Regions from separate parts of the Homo sapiens genome. Here region 2 is linked to region 1. The links come from fine-mapping of genetic effects on gene expression. Tissue or cell type: whole blood. Region 1 holds a variant in brackets; the other region holds the start of a gene. All regions are shown on one strand. Distances are between the middles of the regions.

Evidence for each region. PIP is the estimated chance that this variant, and not a neighbour inherited with it, causes the effect.
Region 2: TATDN1 starts here. The variant in region 1 is fine-mapped to the expression of TATDN1 in whole blood (INTERVAL, PIP above 0.99).

Annotation. Positions count from the first base shown.
Region 1 is chr8:124,592,402-124,602,634 of GRCh38, forward strand. All of the region lies in intron 3 of MTSS1 (MTSS I-BAR domain containing 1), which reads right to left. Among named protein-coding and RNA genes, the nearest start is that of NDUFB9, 58 kb to the left of the region's middle. RefSeq lists an enhancer at 395-674. The variant C/T (reference allele first, on the strand shown) is at 4,784.
Region 2 is chr8:124,533,531-124,543,763 of GRCh38, forward strand. It overlaps TATDN1 (TatD DNase domain containing 1), which reads right to left and starts at 5,555. Exons shown (of 12, transcript NM_032026.4): 1 at 5,495-5,555. The coding sequence starts at 5,516. It overlaps NDUFB9 (NADH:ubiquinone oxidoreductase subunit B9), which reads left to right and starts at 5,593. Exons shown (of 4, transcript NM_005005.3): 1 at 5,593-5,757; 2 at 9,557-9,749. The coding sequence starts at 5,657. RefSeq lists an enhancer at 5,416-5,485.

The DNA.
Region 1 (10,233 bases):
AATAAAGCACTATTTTTAACAGACAAGACCTTCAGGGGAAAGCCACAGGGATCTGTGGCAGGTTTAACCATGTTGAATTGGTAGAAGAACATTCCCTCTCTTATTAGTACTCGTGACATTACTATGGGTTGGATTTTCCTGTGCCCTCTCTTCTAGAAATCCCCATTTACTATTTCAGCTCCACATGTTTTCCATTTCATTTTGCAAAACCATCAAGTTTCTACAACCAAATAATAGTAACTGTGACATATATATCGTATATTAATATTTCTATATTTTATTTCAGTCTGAAGAGAGAAACCTTCTGAGGGCAAGGCCTCTATTCCTCTAAAAACAAGGTTTTCTCAATCTGGACAATGTTGACATCCTGGGCTGAATGTTGCTTTGTTGCTGGGCTGGACTGGGCTGTGCAGTGTGAGATGTTTAGCAGTATCCTTGGCCTCTACCCACCAGAAGTCAACAGCAGACTTCCTTTAACCTCACCTCCAGACTTGTGATCCTCCAAAATGTCTCCAGAGAGTACCAAGTGTTGGGCAACAAATCACTCCTGTTGAAACCAGTGCTGTAAAAGAACCCAAGCGAGGGCCAAGTGTTGCCCGAATCTGACTTTTATGACCAGAGTCTCTTAAAACTGTACCTGCCTCCAAAGAGCAGGGGATGCCACGGCCATCTCAGCGTTGCCATCTACCACTGTTCACACCAGGGAGAGCCAGCAGAGGGCGCCGTTTTCACACACTCTGCCCCGCCTTCTGCGCTCTCCAAGTTCTGAGCTTTTTACTGCATATAAGCAAAGACGAGGAACGTTTTATTCCCCGGGAAATATTTCCTATTTCTTTCTGGGCCTTCGTTTGATTAAAAGTTAATAACCCGGCCACACAAGGAAACTGGCACACTCACTCACTGATGGTAAGAGTGTAAACTACTACTTTCCTGGAGCAAAATGTGGTAGCGTCTATCAAGAAAAGCCTTGAAATATTTTTCTTTGACCCAGCAATTCTCATTTCAGAAATTTAACCTGCGGAAATGATTAAGAGTGAAAGAAAGTCCTTACCTACAAGGGTAGTCATCGAAATGTTGTTCACAGCGTCAAAAGACTGGAAACAAAATCCCATTACAGGGATCTGGTTAAATCAACCATAGAGCACCACCATGCGATGGAATTGCACGTGGTAATTTAAAACACTGGAGAACAACGTTTAAGGTTGCAGGAAGACGTACAGCGCTTAGGATGTGCCAGGCACTGCTGTGAGTACTCTGCACACTTCAACTCATTTAATCCTCGCAGCACCTCCAGCCGCATCAGTACTGTGACCATCCCATGTTATAGAAAGGAAAAATGCCCAAGTGATTTGTCCCAGGTTATGTCACTAGTAAGTGGAACTCAAACCTAGGCTTAAGCTCCAGCGTCAATGCATTTATCCCCTCAGGTATATGGCACTTGTGATGGACAAAGGGAGATGGGACAGAGCAGAGACGAGAGCCTAGAACAATGTACACCAAACTTATTGGTCTACACGCTATTACGGGTGTTGGTGCTTTAAAGCCAGCTCTCATATTTTGCTTCTAGAGCCTGGCCCTGTCTAATCAGTACCAACAGGGATTGCGCTCCATCCTTGCTAAGCTACTATAGGGAGTTCAGGGATGGAGAGCTGCTTCATGGATAATTCATGCCTCAGTTTCCTCAAGATAGAATTATGATGTTGGAAAAGATCATCTCAAATGTCAGTGCCCCCACTCCGTTTCTCTGCTTCACTGCTTCTGTCACCTTCCCAGGTATTTCCCATAGATTGCCACTGGTCACTTATTATCCCCAGGAAAGCCCAAGGCTTCTCAGAAACAGATGAACTGGCCGGGCTCAGTGGCTCACGCCTGTAACCCCAGCACTTTGGAAGGCTGAGGCGGGCGGATCACCTGAGGTCAGGAGTTCGAGACCAGCCTGGCCAACATGATGAAACCTCATCTCTACTAAAAATACAAAAATCAGCCAGGTGTGGTGGCACATGCTTGTAATCCCACCTACTTGGGAGGAGTAGCTTGAGAATCGCTTGAACCCAGGAGGTGGAGGTTACAGTGAGCTGAGACTGCGCCACTGCACTTCAACCTGGGCAACAGACTGAGACTCTGTCTCAACAACAACAACAAAAGAAATAAAGGAAAGGAAAGGAAAGGAAATAGCTGAACTATGGTACAATAAAAACAATTTCTAGACATAATGTATGTGCCTCTGTAGAACAGGAAGCCCTAGAGAGGAGAGGAAATAAAGAACCACAAAGAAAACTTCCAAACAGCAGTGTCTCTGTCCAACTGGCACGAAGACAGGAGGCAGATGACATCCTCTGTGGACCCCAGGACTGAGCTATTAGAATCACTGCTGATCTCGGCAACATGGGGCACCCTAAAAATAGGTCCATCTGTGGAAGTGCTTAACATCTTATGCTCTTCCTAACCCTTGCAAGAACTTAAACAAAAATCAGCAGGTTTGAATAAGCTTCAGAGGAAACTGGCTTGAGCTACAAAGACAGAAGACATCTGGAAGAGCTCCCATTTGCGAGTGGGCATATTTGTGGAAACAAATGGCTGGCTGAGGCACACACAGCAGCTTGAGTGAAGACAAGGCCCTACTTCTGTGTTCTCGGTACCTAGCACTGGTGTTGAATAAAGGAACGGACATTTACCATTTTGAGAGCAAACCACCAGGCTGGCCCTATCTGGAGGCAGGACCAGGGACTGGGTTTGTATCTTGTTTAATCCCCACATACTTGTTTAAAAGATATAAAATAAAAACAAGATGCTTAATCTTAGCAAAGTTCTATATTGATTCCTGGTCAGCCTAGAGATACAATGCTGTATTCGTTTCCCTTTGCTGCTGTAATAAATGACCACGAGCTTAGTGGCTTAAAACAACAGAAGTTTATTATCTTATAGTTCTGGAAGTCAGAAGTCCAAAATCAGTTTCACTGGTCTAATATCAGGGTGTCAGGTACCACAGGGCTGGCATTCCTTCTGGAGGCTGCAGGGGAGAATCTATTTCCTTGCCTTTTCCCACTTCTAGAGGCTGCCTGCACTCCTTGGCTCGTGGCCCCTTTGTCCATCTTCAAAGCCAGCGGTGCAATCTACTCCCTTCTCTGACTTCTGCTTCTGTCCTTACATCTTCTCTCTCCGCCTCCAATTTTCCTGCCTCCTTCTTATGAGAATCCTTGTGATTATGTGGGACCCACCTGGATCATCCAGGATCACCTCCCTGCCTCAAGACCCTTAACCACATCACCACACATCAGCAGAGACCCCTTTGGCCACGTACAGTAACATTCACAGGTTCTAGGGGTTAGAACGTGGACATCTTTGGGGCATCCTTATCATGGCCATTAAAAAAAGGTAAGAGTTGTGAATCTGGAGAGTGTGGCAGGGCACTGTGGCTGACTGCAGCACCCATTCGCCCTCACATGATCGGTCTAGGCCCATGATGCTAACTCCATCCCCTTTGGCAGTGGCTGCTTCAGGGATGGGACAAAGACATGGAGAGGAGGCTGCTGGGGAGGCCTCTGGGGAATGTTTTCCTGATCTTAAGAGAAACACACCAAAGGGTTCCACAGGCCACAAACAAGGAAGCAGACTGTGCAGCTGCTGCCATCAGCCATCCTATGGCCATGGGGACACCTGCCTCAGGATGACACTGCTGTGGACAGAAGAGAAAGGGCCTGAGTCTCCAGTGATGTCCCTTAGCCACCAACCCGAACCTGCTCTTCCTCTGGGCCTGGCACCCCAGTTTTGCAAGCATATTCATTTTCTTATTTTTAGAGCCACTTTGATTTGGTTCTGCTTCTTGAAAGGAGAAGAAAGAAAGGAGCAATGGCCTCTCATGCTTCTTCCCAGAACCAGGAACCAACGTGTTGCTAAAAGAAATCTAAGTTGGTCACTTGATGCCACTGCTTAGAGAGGCACAAATACTTTATGGCAAAAACATAACCCGATTCAACGTGGTACATGTAAAAACTTTCTCCCATAACAAGCAAATGCTTTTCTAATAAAGCAGCACAAAATCAGCCAGTATGATCTGTGGGTGATCTGTGAAGGAATCATCAGTGGAAAGGAAGAAGTGAACCATCCAGGGGCTGGGCTGCCAAAGCATGACTGCTGAGGCCCAGCACCATACATTTTGCATATGAAGACACACGATCCACAAGCGTCCACTGAGTATTTGTATTGGCTTTTGGGGGCTGCTGTAACAAAGCAACCCAAACTGGCTGGCTTAAAGCAACCGTAGTTCTGGAGGCTAAAAATCTGAAATCCAGATGTCGGCAGGGCCGTGCTCCCTCTAAAACCTACAGGGAGAGTCCTTCCTTGCCTTCTCCTTGCTGCTGGTGACTCCAGCATTCCTTGGCTTGCAGCTGCATTGTTCAAATTTCTGCCTCTGTTGTGCTAGGCTCACGGCCTGTGTGTGTCCATCTTCCCATAAGACACGTGTGAAGGCATTCCTGTGTGTGTGTGTCTAAATTTCCCTCTTCCTATAAAGACCCCAGTCCTATTGGATTAGGGCCCACCTTAATGACCTCATCCTAACTGGATTACATCAGCAAAGACCCTGTGTCCAAATGGTCACATTCCCGGGCGCCAGGGATTAGGACATCAACCTATCTTTCTGGGGGTGCGCCGCAGTCCACGGCCCACATCCTACCGTGCAGCAAAAACTAACGTGATTTCAAGGACGGTGAAGACAGGTGCCAGGCCCTTGAGCAGCTTACAAAGATTGGTTGGATGGACACAGATAAAATGGTGCAGGGAA[C/T]ACTGTCCTGACAGCAACCCTCTGTGGTAGGCATTATCAGCCCCATGTTACAAATGAAAACACCTGAGGCTCAGGAGGGTTAACAACCTTGCTGAGGGCCACATTGCTGGTCAGCAGTAGAGCCAAAATCCAAGCCTGCTTCTACGGATACCAAGGGCTCTCTCTCACTACGACAAGCTGGAGACATTCCCAGCTGAGGACAAAGAGGCACATTAAAGTCACAAACAGAATACAAATTGTTTAATGCATATTTGGGGGGGTAGGGAGGAAATAAGAAAAGCAAAGTTTCCTTGCCCCCTAAAGTCCGAAGTCAGATTGCCCCTTGCTGCAGAGACCTGGCAGCGACAGGCAGGACGGTGGGTCCTTCGAGTGGCATTGTCCTGTCCCTCCAAGCTGCCTCATTTGCAGGCAGCTGCCATCTCCCTGCATAGCAGGGGACTAATGGCAGGCATTCTTGGGGGCTACAGTGTGGGCAGGTGGCGAGCGAGGACTGAAAAGACGTTTTGTCAGGCCCAGCTTCTGCAGCGTGGAGGGGAAGGGCTGAGGAAGCCAGACTGAAGAACTGCTTTGGTGAAAGTGTGCCGCCGTCACAGTAAGTCACTGTGCATCTCTGCTGTTCCCGAGAGCTGACATTGCTCGAAGGCTAATTAGGAGCCAGACAGAACCAGAGGAGAGGAGAACGCTCTCAGGCATCTCTGCAGGAGAGGGGTGCAGGGCAGGAGAGTTCACTAGAGTGGGGTATCTCGGCCTCAGCCCTGCTGACATTTTGAACCGGATCATTTTTTGTTATCAATAATGACCATTTTGGGCCAGGCATGATGGCCATGCCTATAATCCCAACACTCTGGAAGGCTGAGGCAGGAGGATCACTTAAGTTTGGTCTCAAACTTCTGGCTTTAAGCGATACCAACTAGCAACACAGCAAGACCCCATCTCTACAAATAAATTAATAAATAAATAATTAACTGGGTGTGGCGGTGTATGCCTGCAGTCCCAGCCACTCAGGAGGCTGAGGTGAGAGGATCGCTTGAACTCAGGAGCTCAAGGCTACAGTGAGCTATGATCACACCACCACACTCCAGCCTGAGTGACTGAGACCCTGTCTCAAAAGAAAAAAGCAAGAAAAAAAGGAATGATCATTTTTTGTGTCCTGTGTATTGTAGGATGTTTTGCAGCCTCCCTGGCCTCTACCCACTAGATGCCAGTAACATCCCTCAAGTCATGACAACTAGAAATGTCCCCAGGGGGCAAACTCGTCCCTGGTGAGCACTGGCGTAGGAACATGCATCCTTTTTCCATAAGGAGGGCTCACTGTTTCCAGTGCTGTTCCAGGGAAGCCACCTGACATGCTCACTGCACCAGTGGCCTCCCCGCAAACCCTCGCTGCAGAAGCTCTGAAAAGCTATTAAGTTCACTGCCTACCCCCATCTTCATAAGCACAGAGATAATAGGCAACACATGTTCTCATAATGAAGAAAATGTTCCACTTGCCATTAAAGAAACACTAATTTGAAAACACACAACTGACATTCCCCACAAAGCCAGCAGGCACTAACCCCCTCTCCTATGGCCTTAGGGATGCATTAATTCAACTAGGGGCAGCTTGTGTACAAGCCCAAAATACTGGAAATACCCAAATAACTAGGAGAGGGAGCCTGAGGAGCTGCATCAGCAGGATCTAAGGCCGCAGCTGTCTGGTTAGGAAGAGCTCCTTCACGGGACCCAGCTAGAAAGTGGAGGAAGAATGGGTGGTGGATAAGAAAGCCACCTCCAACCACTCAATGGCTTGTGACTTCTGTCTGGACACCAACCAGCAATAAACAGCCAGCCCCAAAGTGTCCCTGAAGATGTCTACAAAACAGCAGCTGGAACCCTAACACCAGTGGTTGCTCCCTCCCCATTGCCCTTGCCGCCTGCTGATGGAAGGGACCCTGTGCGCTTGAACAGCAGCTCCCGTTCCCCCACAGTGAAATTGATTACTGTACCCACTAGGGTTCAAGTTTAAAAGATCTAAGTAGCCGGGTGCGGTGGCTCACGCCTGTAATCCCCAACACTTTGGGAGGCCGAGGCGGGCCGATTGCCTGAGGTCAGGAGTTTGAGACCAGCCTGGCCAACATGGTGAAACCCTGTCTCTACTAAAAATACAAAAATTAGCCAGCACGGTGGTGGGTGCCTGTAATCCCGGCTACTCAGGAGGCTGAGGCAGGAGAATCACTTGAACCCGGGAGGCAGAGGTTGCAGTGAGCCAAGATCACGCCACTGCACTCCAGCCTGGGGGACAGAATGAGACTCCGTCTCAAAAAAAAAAAAAAAAAAAAGAGAGAGAGAAAGAAAAAGAAAAAAGAAATGAAAGATCTAAGTAAAGTGGAAATCTTTGGTTCCTGGGCACATAACTACCACACACACCAAATATAACAAATGTGAGTGTAGGCTCGCCTGTGACTGTATCAGGAATCTTTTTCTAAAACAGATACACACCAAAAACTTACCTATTGAGGTAAGTGACCCCCTCCTCCCCCAAATGACCTCCAAAACGGTCTTGGGGCTCCTTGGCAGCTGTATTCCCATCTGTCTCCTCTTTCCCACACACTTGGATGGCAGGCACACTCCACGCAGCCTGCAAGCCATAGAGTTTCAGTAGCAACAGTGTCTCTCACCATGGCTAATCTAGAGTCTTAGCAGAGACTCCTTACTATCGTCTAAATGAGCAGGAGGATAAGCAGAGAACCACAGGGTGAAAGGCTTAGCTCTGAAATTAGCCAATGTGGCTTCAAAGCCCAGCTCCCACATTTGCTGTCTGTGTGGTCTTTGCAAGGGTCTGCCTGGCGTAGGCTCAAACGTAGATGGTTGTACTACAAAAAAAAAAAAAACAAAAAAAAAACCAAATATGCTGACCAGTGTCTCATGCTATCTTTGTTGCATAAATCACACCCAAAATGCATCATCTGTGATTTCCATGTCGGGCTTCTTGTGAAGCAATCTGAATATCCTAGATTTTTACAAATTTTGTTCCCAAATCTTTTACAGTTGCCTCATCCATACTTAATTCGATGGCATTTTTTTTTTGCAAAAGTAACTTTTATTAATATCATATCTTTCTAAACATTCTACTTCTTTTGTAGAAATGACAAATCTTGGTTTTCACATTCACACTGCAAACATTTACATAGCTTATAATTAAATTATTTAACAACAGTATGTGCAACTGGCATTTACAGGTTTATAAGCGCACACAGCGGATGCTGGTGAAGCCTACAACCCAGGTGTGAGAAGTGTGTGTGCGCATGCTAGAGAGAGAGTCTGTGAGCTTCCTGAAGGCAGGGGCTGGAATATTTTACAGAGAAAATAAGGAGCACTGGTTACATCAGTGCTCCCATTAGGCAGAGCGGTGATGTAGCTATAAGCTGAGTCCTACAGGAAGGCAGAGGCCGGAGTAAGTAAATGTGGCTGGGCTGGGGCATCTGTCCATAAGGACACACTGGACAACAGATCATGACCCCCACTCCTCCCACATCTAATATCCACTTTCTCTAAGGAGCTGGCAAATCAGTACTTAGAGGGCAAATGAACAGTGCAAAGGGCAGCTTTCAAGAAAGCCAGAATTATTCCTTCTTCCCAAACATCTCAGAAGACCAAAGGCCTAGAAGGAGCGGCCCAGAGGGCTTGCCTGGAAGGTTCTGTTTGTACTTATTAATTGTTACGCATCCACAACGTGGTTATTTAATGGGAAGTGAAAGCTGGGGGACCGGGAGGCTCATGAAAACCAACTCCAGTGAGCCTCCATCCTCTGCCCCCACCCCTTCAAAACAGGAAGGCCGTTGCCCTTGGCTGAACAGCTTTTTAAAGTGACCTTGACCCTAGGTTTCCCTTGACTGTAATTTTTTTTTTTTTTTTTTTTTTGAGTCTCACTCTGTTGCCTAGGCTGGAGTGCAGTGGCGTGACCTCCGCTCACTGCAACCTCCACCTCCCGGGTTCAAGCAATTCTCCTGCCTCAGCCACCCGAGTACCTGAGATTATAGGCGCCCACCACCATGCCTGACTAATTTTTTGTATTTTTAGTAGAGACGGGGTTTCACCATGTTGGCCAAGCTGGTCTCGAACTCCTGACCTCTGGTGATCCACCCGCCTTGACCTCCCAAAGTGCTGGGATTATAGGCATGAGCCACTGTGCCCAGCCCCCTTGACTGTTAATTTTTATATTTCAGAGCTCACAACAGTTGCATCACCAGCTTCCTTCCAGCCAAGAATGAAAAGGAAAGCTCCTACAAAATCCAGGGCTCGGGACTGTGTCATGGGACGCTCAGGGCCACTTAGGGACACTGCTGCAATGGCTCATGGCAGGTTGTAATATTTTAGTTTCACTATATGAGAAAATAGTCTCTCCTTCCTCTCAAGCCCCTGCTCTCAGAGAGCCCAGAAGTCCTAAATTGGCAGGGGTCTTTTCACCTTGACGGCGGGCTGGAGGACTGCCCGGGTGTTGCATCACAGAAGTTGCCTCAGCGTGCATCACTGCCACTCTGGCTGGACCGAGCAGGGCAAGGCTGGGTACACCATCTGCTGCCCCGGGGGATGCCTGGAGGCCAGCACTAGCCACGGCTACACAGCTCTGCACACACGCACACACGAGCGTCAGACTTGACCATGAAGCTGGGCACTCCTCTTCTGCAATCGCACTGGCATGTTTCAGGATTTTTTTATTTTATAAGGTGAAGTGACAGAACACAGTCTTCAAAGGAAAGTAAGAGTGTTTCCAAATGGCATCAGAGTGTGAACCTGAATTCTAATAAGAGAAGAGGAAGCTCAATTCTTAGGCCTGGAAAAGTTCAATCATGATGCCCTAGCTAAGACAATGCTTTACCCAAAGATTTCGACCAGGTGTGTCCAATCTTTTGGCTTCCCTGGGCCACAGTGGAAGAGGAATTGTCTTGGGCCACATATAAAATACACTAACACAAACAACAGCTACTAAAAAAAAAAAATCACAAATAAATCTCATATATATACATATATATATATATATATAATTTTTTTTTGAGACACGGTCTCACTCTGTCATCCAGGCTGGAGTGCAGTGGTGTGATCACGGCTCACTGCAACCTCCGCCTCCTGGGTGCAAGCAATCCTCCCACCTCAGCCTCCCAAACAGCTGGGGCTACAAGTGTGCACTACTACACCTGGCTAAGTTTTGTATTTTTAGTAGAGATGGGGTTTCGCCATGTTGGCCAGGCTAGTCTTGAACTCCTGGCCTCAAGTGATTCCCCCACCTCGACCTCCCAAAGTGCTAGGATTACAGATGTGAGCCACCATGCCCGGCCTCATAATGGTTTAAGAAAGCTCACAAATTTGTGTTGGGCTGCATTCAAAGCCATCCTGAGCCATGTGAGGCCTGCAGGTTGAACAAGCTTGATCTAGACCAAGGGGCAAAACCCAAAAGGCTAGTAGGTGGACAA
Region 2 (10,233 bases), 59 kb before region 1:
AAACTGCAAAAAAGGAGGGGAGCTGGTCCCAATGTCAGGCAGTTGGCTGAAGTCAGCAGAGGAGCAAGTCTTCCAATCTTTGTTTTTCCAGGGCTGGTTTCTGTTCAACTTGTAGGAAAAAAGTCTGGTATTGGTTAGTAAGGAAGGAGACCAGGACCAACCCCTCATCTTGTCATGTTTGGGAATCTTAGTTTTTCATGTTTTTCTGGGGTCTACTTGGTCGAGGGGGGTTCTGTTCAGCCAGTTTAGGGGGCTTAGAATTTTATTTTTATTTCACAGGCACAACCAGCACAGCTGCTTTGGTAAGTCAGTGACATTAAAAAAAGAAATGTGTGGCAGGGCGCGATGGCTCACGCCTATAATCCCAGCACTTTGGGAGGCTGAGGCAGGAGGATCACGAGGTCAGGAGATCGAGACCATCCTGGCTAACACAGTGAAACCCCGTCTCTACTAAAAATACAAAAAATTAGCCGGGCGTGGTAGTGGGCGCCTGTAGTCCCAGCTACTCGGGAGGCTGAGGCAGGAGAATGGCGTGAACCTGGGAGGCGGAGCTTGCAGTGAGCCCAGACTGCACCACTACACTCCAGCCTGGGCAACAGAGCGAGACTCCGTCTCAAAAAAAAAAAAAAAAAAAAAAAAAAAAAAAAAAGAAATGCGCTAGAGCAAGGGATTGGTAAACTAAGGCCCACAAGCCACTGCCTACTTTTGTTTGCCTCTAAGCTAAGAATGACTTTACATTTTTAAATAGTTGAAGAAAATCAAAAGAATATTTTGTGACACATCAAAATTATAAGAACTTCAAGTTTCAGTGACCGTAAGTTTTACTGGAACATAGCCACACCTATTTACATACTGTCTATCACCTGCTTTTGAATGACAAGGTGTGAGATAGGAAAAAATGCAAACTGCTTTCTCCTACAGTATTCTCATACTCACAATACTCTGAATTTTTTGTTTGTTTGTTTTAAGTAGAGATGGGGTCTCACTTTGTTGCCCAGGCTGGTCTTGAACTCCCGGGCTCAAGCAGTCCTCCCACCTTGGCCTCCCAAAGTGCTTGGATTACAGGCGTGAGGATTCACTTCTGACGTCAGGTATGTGTGGGGTTTCCTCTCCCAACAACCAATTCTCTGACACCAGCTGGGTGACCTATAATTTAACTCAATTCTCACACTATCTACCTGGATATAACATCAGACCGCAGAGGTCAAGGGCTCAGTCCCACAAGACTCTCCCCATTTCAGATACCAATTACAAGCAGTAGGTTCCCAGGTTACCCACAACTTGTCTAACTTGGCTACAATAAGAGGTTCCCACAACCCCCTTCTCAGGTTTGATCATTTGCTAGAGCAGCTCACGGAACTCAGGAAAGCACTTTACTTATTACCCATTCATTGTAAAAAGATGCCATTCAAAAACGGCCAGGTGGAAGAGACACATAGAGACATGTATGGGTTTTTATAGAGGCTTCACCATGTAGGTATGATTGATTAAATCACTGGCCATTAGTGAACAACTCAACCTTCAGTTTCTCTCCCCTTCCCCAGAAGTGGGAGTGGGTGGGAGGGACTGAAACTTCCAACTCTCTAATCACATGATGGGTTTTCCTAGGCAAACCCCCATCCTGAGGCTATCCAGGAGCCCCCAGCCATCAGTCATCTTAGCAGCATACAAAAAGACACTTAGCACTTAGGAGATTCCAAGGGTTTCAGGAGTTGTGCACAAAGAAATGGGAGCAGAGAACACACACGTATTTACTATTACATCACAGTACACAAAAGGGCAGAGTTGAATAGCTGCAATAGAGATCACGTGGCCCTCAAAGTCTAAAATATTTACTATATGGCCCTTTAAGGAAAAAGTTTGCAAACCTCTGCACTTGATTCAAAAATTTAAGGAACAACCAAATGTGTGGCTCTAAATGGGATACCATTTTGGACATGACCACCAAGGGACATTTTTGGAACAACAGGAAAAATTTGAGTATGATTTTGGTACTAGTTAAGATGAACATTTCCTGAAATGGAAAGGTGGAGACTGTGATTGAAAAAAGCAGAGCACAAAAGAGTAGCCTCAGTATGATCTTATTTTGTTTGGTATGCCTACAGAAGATCTGGAAAGATAGACATGGTGGTGTTATGTGTGATTTGGAGGAACTGTATTAATCTGCTTTTGCATTGCTATAAAGGAATACCTGAGACTGGGTGATTTATAAAGAAAAGAGGTGTATTTGGCTCATGGTTCTGCAGGTTGTACAAGATGCATGACACCAACATCTGCTTTTGGGAGGATCTCAGTAAGCTTCCAATCCTGGTGGAAAGGGAAGGGGAGCCAGTGTGAACTCATTACCACAGGGAGGCCATCAAGCCTTTCATGAGGGATCCACCCCCATGAGATGGATGTTGGGAAGTGACCCAAACACCTCCCACTGGACCACCTCAACATTGGAGAGCAAATTTTAACATGAGATTTGGAGGGGACAAATATCTAAACTATATCAGGAATGGAATATGATGTTTTTATTTTCACTGTTGTTTGTATTTTGCATTTTCTTCTTGCACAGATATTTCTCATTTTTTGGTGTACTATGTAGTCTAAGATCAATGCAGTAGAGATTCTGGCATATAATAGTTACAGGTAGAAGTATTTTTGAGAGTGGAAGAGTTTGTAAATAACACCCAGGGAATAGAATTCCACTTGTGGAGACAGAAAAGAGAGTATAAGCTGGGCTAAAGAAATTCTCATGCTGGCCAGTGGCTCCACGTGTAATCCCAGAACTTTGGGAGGCGGAGGTGGAAGGACTGCTTAAGGCCAGCAATTCAAGACCAGCCTGAGCAACATAGCAGGACACAGTGGTCTACAAAAAAAAATTAGCCTGGTATGGTGGTGAGCACCTCTAGTCTCAGCTACTTGGGAGGATGAGGCAGGAAGATCACTTGAGCCTAGGAGGTCAATGCTGGAGCCATGATCTAAGCCACTGTACTCCAGCCTAGGTGACAGAGCAAGACCCTGTCTCAAAACAAACAAAAACCCCCACTGTTGGGGTATAGTTCTAAGGGGCAGCCACTTGTTATGCAAGTAGAAAAGAGAGAAATGTAGAAAGAATTACAATGGTCAGCTGTCTTAAACCAAAATCTAAGGTAATTTTCATAAAATGGGTTCAATTTTTCATGCAATTGTCCCATGTGAAGCTTGTTCCAGGGATTTAATATGATGTTTTTCAAAATATTGTTCAGAACTCATTATTAGGCTAAGAAATTAGTCTAGCGATTCATGGGCAGAATTTTTTAAATGACACAAACTGAAAGATTAAATATCAGAGTAAGTCATATACCAAGGATAGAATGCATAATATGATCTCATTTCTGTTTCAAAAGGAAAAAAAAAAACCTTGATATGTTGTATTTTTATGAATCTGTATAACAATCTATTAAAAAATTAGGGAAGGCTATACTTCAAACTTTTAATATGGTTACTTTAGGAGAGTGGGGCTAAAGGAAACCATACAGAAAAAAATTTATTTCAATTATTTATTCCAATAAAGTCACCTTCTTTAAGAAGTCTTTTCTTGCTTATTTTATCTGATGCTAATCCCTTTACTAATTTTCTTATCACCTTAGCACTAAAGCCACTCATTCATACTTTCCCAAACAGTCATTGTACTACGCCCCTAGGAAAAAAATATAAATACCATACCAGTATCTGCCTTAAGAGTTTGATCTAGTGGGAAAGGCATACTCATATTTAATTATAAATAATGTGGTATAAGTTTTAAGGAGTGAGTAGGCAGACAGGCAACAGGGTAGTTGGTAGGCAGAGGAATATTTTGGCCCCAAACTGCCACTCTAAAACCTTGTCAGAGGTAACAAACAGCATGCACAAGTGTTTATAGAGCAGCCCAGGGATGGGCTAGAAAAGTGGGCAGGACTGGACCACAGAAGGGCTTTGTATGGTGTGTAAGCATTTAGGCTATCCTGAGGAGCGTAAATGAAAGATTTGAAGCAAAAGAAACATTTAGCTGATTTGATTTTTAGATACACCAAAATGGAGTCTACATGGAGGATGGATTTAAGACATTAACTTGAGGCAGGAATTTGGTTGTATAACATAAACACACTTTTAAAAAGTTATGTGGCCTTTCTTTACGGAGTACTTCATGGCTCTTTATTCCATCTCCCTCATCAATTATATCAAAGGTTAGGATGGAAAGGCTAAGACACGGCAATGTCTTATTTGACAACCCCTCCCCAAACCCCTACTCCAGGCTTTCCCACAGCAATTTCAAAACCTTTTTCCTGGCACTTAACATATTCTCCCCTGCATTTGCTTTTGACTGTACAGTACATAGGTCTTAGGTCTCCAGTCTGAAAACTGCACCACTAGATTTTACAGTTCCACAGGACTTAGCACAACGTCTTTGAAAAAAAAAAATACTGCTTAAATAACTCTCAGATCTAAATGTATAATCCTAATCTCTTGATTGCCAGACCACATTCCCAATTGCCCAGATATCTCTACCTGGATGTCCTATAATTATCTCAAACTTAACCTAATCCAAATGGACCTGGGTACCTCTCTTCACCGCCAAACTAGTCATGCTTCCATTTCATATTTAAGTACTTTTCCAAACCCTGAGTCATCTTTGTTCACTCTCTACTACCGGCCATGAACACTCAGCTGCTAAATGCTGCACACATCTCTTCCATTTCTCTCTCTTTTCCATTACCCTAGTTTAAGCTCTTGAAATGCTTCCCTACCTCTCCCTATTTCCCACAAAACCTACATAATAGCTATCAGGATTACCTTGCTAAAGCAGAGGTGTGATCACTGTCATTTCCCACCTTCAGGTAGCTGGAAACCCCACAAAACGAGGATCATGCCCATTTAAATCCCGCAGCATTCTCCCTCTCGTTCTACTGATGCCGACTGGATCATTGTACTTGCCAAGTACAGTTTGTTTTTCTCCCCATTACTTGTGTTTTCTAGTTTCTCCACCAGATGGTGATGACAGTACAACTGGGAGCTTTGTGCCCTGTGTTCCTAGGCCAGTGCCAGGCCCACTTGAGGCGCTCACTAACTATGATATGAACGAATGAATGCTTGAGTGAATTGGTCCCCAGAAGCGGTCAGCCTCTCCGCCAAGGCAGAGGGGAAGGGCCGGGAGGTGCACGTGGGATGAATGGAAACATAGTGATTGGCCTTTTTGGAGTTTTCTTCTTAAAAAACTGAATACATTACAGATGTTGAAAACAGCACAAAAATCATAACTGTACGGCTTGTTAATTTTTACAAATAAATACACCCTCGTGAATCCAGAACCTAGATCAAGAACCAGAGCATTACCAGCACCCAGAAACCTCCCCGCGCCCTCCTCCACTGAGCGGCCCTTTCAACCCTTACAATGCCGGAGGGCGCAATTCCTGGGTCCTGTGACCTTGGTGACCGACGCCCGGGACAAGTCAGAAAGACCCAAGGGCGTGGAAAACGCTCCTCTTACCGATAAACTTGAAGCGACTCATGACTGCGCATGGAGGACCTCCCCAGCGGAAGCGGAAGTGGCCGCCGGCAACTCCGCCCTTCCGGCTGGCCCCGCTCAGTCACCCGCAGCAGGCGTGCAGTTTCCCGGCTCTCCGCGCGGCCGGGGAAGGTCAGCGCCGTAATGGCGTTCTTGGCGTCGGGACCCTACCTGACCCATCAGCAAAAGGTGTTGCGGCTTTATAAGCGGGCGCTACGCCACCTCGAGTCGTGGTGCGTCCAGAGGTAAGGGATGGGGACCCAGGACTCGGGGAGGTGACCCTCGGGGCCCCATGGAGGTGGAGAGGCCCCTGGGTACCTGGAGGTTCAAGGACTTCGGGAACGGAATTGGAAGGTGGCCTCTCGCTTCACAGAATCCTATGGTAGACCCGGGTTCAAATCCAGGCTTCGCCACTTATGGCCGGGAGACCTTGTAGAGTTGCTTGTCGGGTCTGGGCGTCAGCTTTTTGTTTAGTAAAACGGACGCACGACCAGCGCAGAGGGTCGCAGGAAAATTAAGTGAAATAAAGGAAAGTGCCTAAAATTGTAATTGTCATGGGTCCAGCGCTCGCTCAATCGTTTTCTTCACGATCTTCTCCTTTCCAATATTAACAGCAATAAACTATGCATTATTTTCTTCAGTCTGCAAAACTCTAGGAGTTAGGAATTATCTTAAGCTTATTTTACAGATAAGAAGATGAGCACAGCTGGTAACTTGCGCAAGGTGATAGAGTTTCTAAGTGTCTGAGCCAGGGTTAAAATTTAGGTCTTTCTCCAAAGCATCATCATTCTCCCACCCCTCCCATTAGCTTTTCTCTTTTTAGCTTCATCTAGTCCTTTTCATTACCTTTACATCTTTTTCACCTCTTACATAATTCTCTTTCGACCTCTATCCGTCTGAGACTAGTCTGAGAACATAGTGTTAAAATGTGTAGATTTTAATCACCTAAATTCATTGCAGGGTGGGCTAACAACCCAAGATGTGTGAGTGCCTCGCCTCCACTCCAGTCTTACGACTCTCCAAACGTAGTTTTATAAGAAGGCCTTCTGGGAAAAAAACTCTATGGAAAATGGAGTAGGCCTGGAAGAATTACAGAGGGTACCCTCGAAGCCCAGATTGCATATATGTGACTATTAGAAAATCACTGACATACTTCTCTTGATTTGGCAGGAAGATGGCCAAGTACAATGTGATGGGATTGTTAGTTTCTTCCTTGAGTTTTCCTTATTTATTTATTGATTTGACAGAATTTGCAATTCAGATTCTATGCTCTATGCTAAATATATAAATGTTAGTAAATCCATTTTTGAGCAGCAGCAGCTCACGGATTAGTGGGGAAAATGGACATGTAAACAAATCGATGATGAAGGAAGTTGAGCCATCAGGGATTCAGGTATCCCAACACAAATGGTAAATGTTTGAGGTGATGAATATCCAAATTACCCTGATTTGATCATTATACATTATATGGATGTATTAAAATATCACATGTACCCCATAAATAGGTACAATAATTATGTGTCAAAAAAAGTTAAACATGAAAAAAAGAATTCAAGCAATACTGAACTATAGCTGGGAATACTAAAGTCCATAGTTCTAGAGGAAAATGATATAAACTAGCTACTATGACAGTTATGGCTCAGCATTTTTTAGATCTGACATTCTTTCTCAATCCTTGCCTTAATTTCTTCCTCCATTTGCCCTCATTGTGCTGTTCTCTGTGGTTCCATCCTAGGCATACTGTGTTGTTGTATGTACTCGGGCAGCCTCATTTAGTGCTGTCACCACCTGCGCTCATTTGTCTCTAGAGCTGTAGTTCGAATTGCTTGTTAGATCACGACTGTTGGCTGGGCATGATGGCTCACGCCTATAATCCCAGTACTTTGGGAGGCTGAGGTGAGTGGATCACCTGAGGCCAGGAGTTCAACAGCCTGGCCTACATGTGAAACCGCGTCTCTACTAAAAATACAAAAATTAGCCAGGCGTGGTGGTGGGTGCCTGTAATCCCAGCTACTCATGAGGCTGAGGCAGAAGAACCGCTTGAACCTGGGAGGCAGAGGCTGCAGTGAGCCGAGATAGCCCCATTGCACTCCAGCCTGGGCGACAAGAGTGAAACTTTGTCTCAAAAAATAATAATAAAAAAAAAATTGAAAAGATCACCAACCGTTCTCTCAATCTCCATTTATCTAAATTCTTTGAAATCAAACTTGTTTTCCTGTCACTCCCCATTCTGACTCTTTTCCCAAATTCCCTGCCTCCGCTAATGGTATTATTAGTAATTCAGTTACTGAGCTTTAAGTCTCAGAATTGTTCTCAAGTATTTGCTCCTTATTCCTTTGCCAATAACACACATACTCATACACCATGTATAATTAGACACTGGTTTTTATAAATTCTCTTTCCAGTATGATATTAGTAACTGACATTATTTAACACTTGGGATGTACCAGGCACTTTTTAAAGTGTGTTTATCTTATTGACTGTTTATGACAACCTTAAGATATACACACTGTTATTGCCACTGTTTTACAGAGGAGGAACCCGTGGCCTAGAAGACTTTTTTTGTTTGTTTTTTTGTTAGACGGAGTTTCGCTTATGTTGCCCAGGCTGGAGTGCAGTGGCGCGATCTTGGCTCACCGCAAGTTCCGTCTCCCGGGTTCAAGCAATTCTCCTGCCTCAGTCTCCCGAGTAGCTGGGATTACAGGCATGCGCCACCACGCCTGGCTAATTTTTGTATTTTTAGTAGAGACGGGGTTTTGCCATGTTGGCCAGGCTGGTCTTGAACTCCTGACCTCAGGTGACCTCCACCTCAGCCTCCCAAAGTGCTGGGATTACAGGCGTGAGCCACCGTGCCTGGCCTTTTTGTTGTTGTTGTTGTTGTTTTTTTTTGAGATGAAGTCTCGCTCTTGTCCCCCAGGCTGGAGTGCAAATGGCACAATCTCGACTCACTGCAACCTCTGCCTCCCGGGTTCAAGCTATTCTCCTGCCTTGGCCCCCAGAGTAGCTGGGATTACAGGTGCCTGCCACCACGCCCGGCTAGTTTTTGTATTTTTAGCTGAGACGGGATTTCACCATGTTGGCCAGGCTGGTGTAGAACTCCTCACCTCAGATGATCCCCCTGCCTTGGCCTCCCAAAGTGCTGGGATTACAGGCGTGAGCCACCATGCCCGGCCTCATTTTTGTATTTTTAGTAGAGACGGGGTTTCTCCATGTTGATCAGGCTTGTCTTGAACTCCAGACCTCAGGTGATCCACACGCCTTGGCCTCCCAACGTGCTGGGATTACAGGTGTGAGCCACCGCACCTGACCAGAAGACAGTAACTTACCCCAAGTTACACAGCTAGTAGTGGCAGAGCTAAGATTCAGGCCCATACAGTCTGACTGGAGAGCCTATTCTCATAACTTGGAAGTCTCAATGTCTCCCCTGTCTCCTGTCACCATCACAGCTCCGTACTTTCAGGCCCTCGTCAGCTGTGTCCTAGATTATTGTCAAAACCTCCTAACTGATCTTTGCCCAGTTTCTTTAGAACTTGACTTTAACTTGCCTAAGTTTATGCAGCTAGTGTCAGAGTCAGGATACAAACCTAGCTCTGTATGAGCTAAGCAATACTGTTTCTGCCAAGTAACACCTTTCTTATTCATCTTTGTATCTCCAGAATTTAGCATAGTGACTAGCACAAGATAGAAGGAAATGGAAGTTGTCATTCAATGAATGTTGAATGATCCTGCAGAGGTTATAGCTTTTCTCTTGCGAATGCTCTTTTCTTTTTTTTTTTTTTTTTTTTTGTTTAAATCCTCATTCCATTGTTGGATGTAAGAGGAGAAAAATGGTTAGGGTATATATTTAATACAGTATTTTTTTGCTGCTGCTGTTTGGTGGGCTGTAGAGGAAGCAGCCATGATGATACGGCTGCTCCATTGGGAGGGTTGGGGTAGGTCCACTGCCCATCCAGAAGGTATCAGAAGTGCAGCCTCCTGTCAGACAGCAACACTGACCACGTGAGTAGGTAACATTTCTAATCTTCAAAATCATTTTGGTTTAAGAGACAAATACCGATACTTTGCTTGTTTGATGAGAGCCCGGTTTGAAGAACATAAGAATGAAAAGGATATGGCGAAGGCCACCCAGCTGCTGAAGGAGGCCGAGGAAGAATTCTGGTACCGTCAGCATCCACAGCCATACATCTTCCCTGACTCTCCTGGGGGCACCTCCTATGAGAGATACGATTGCTACAAGGTAGGTGAGAATTATGATGACTGCCTTCTGAGAAATAGACTTTGTTTCTTCAGTCCCACACCTCAGCCTCAGAAATCACTTGCCCTTCAAGGGGTAGCTAGGAGACTTATTTCCTGACAGTTGTCAGATGCAGGCCTACCTCATTTTATTGCATTTTGTTTTATTGTGCTTGGCAGATATTGTATTTTCACAGATTGAAAGTTTGTGGCAACCCCGTGCTGAGCAAGTCTGTGGGCACCATTTTTCCAACAGCATGTGCTCACTCCCTGTCTCTGTTTCTCAGTTTGGCAATTCTTGCAATATTTCAAACTTTTTTTTATTATTACTCTATCTACACACAGTTGTGGTGAACTGTGATCAGTCACCTTTGATGTTACTATTGTCATTGTTTTGGGGCACAAAAAAACCATGCCCACATAAGACAGCAGACTTAATCGATAAATGTGCGTGTGCTGACTGTTTCACCGACCAATAGTTCCTCCGC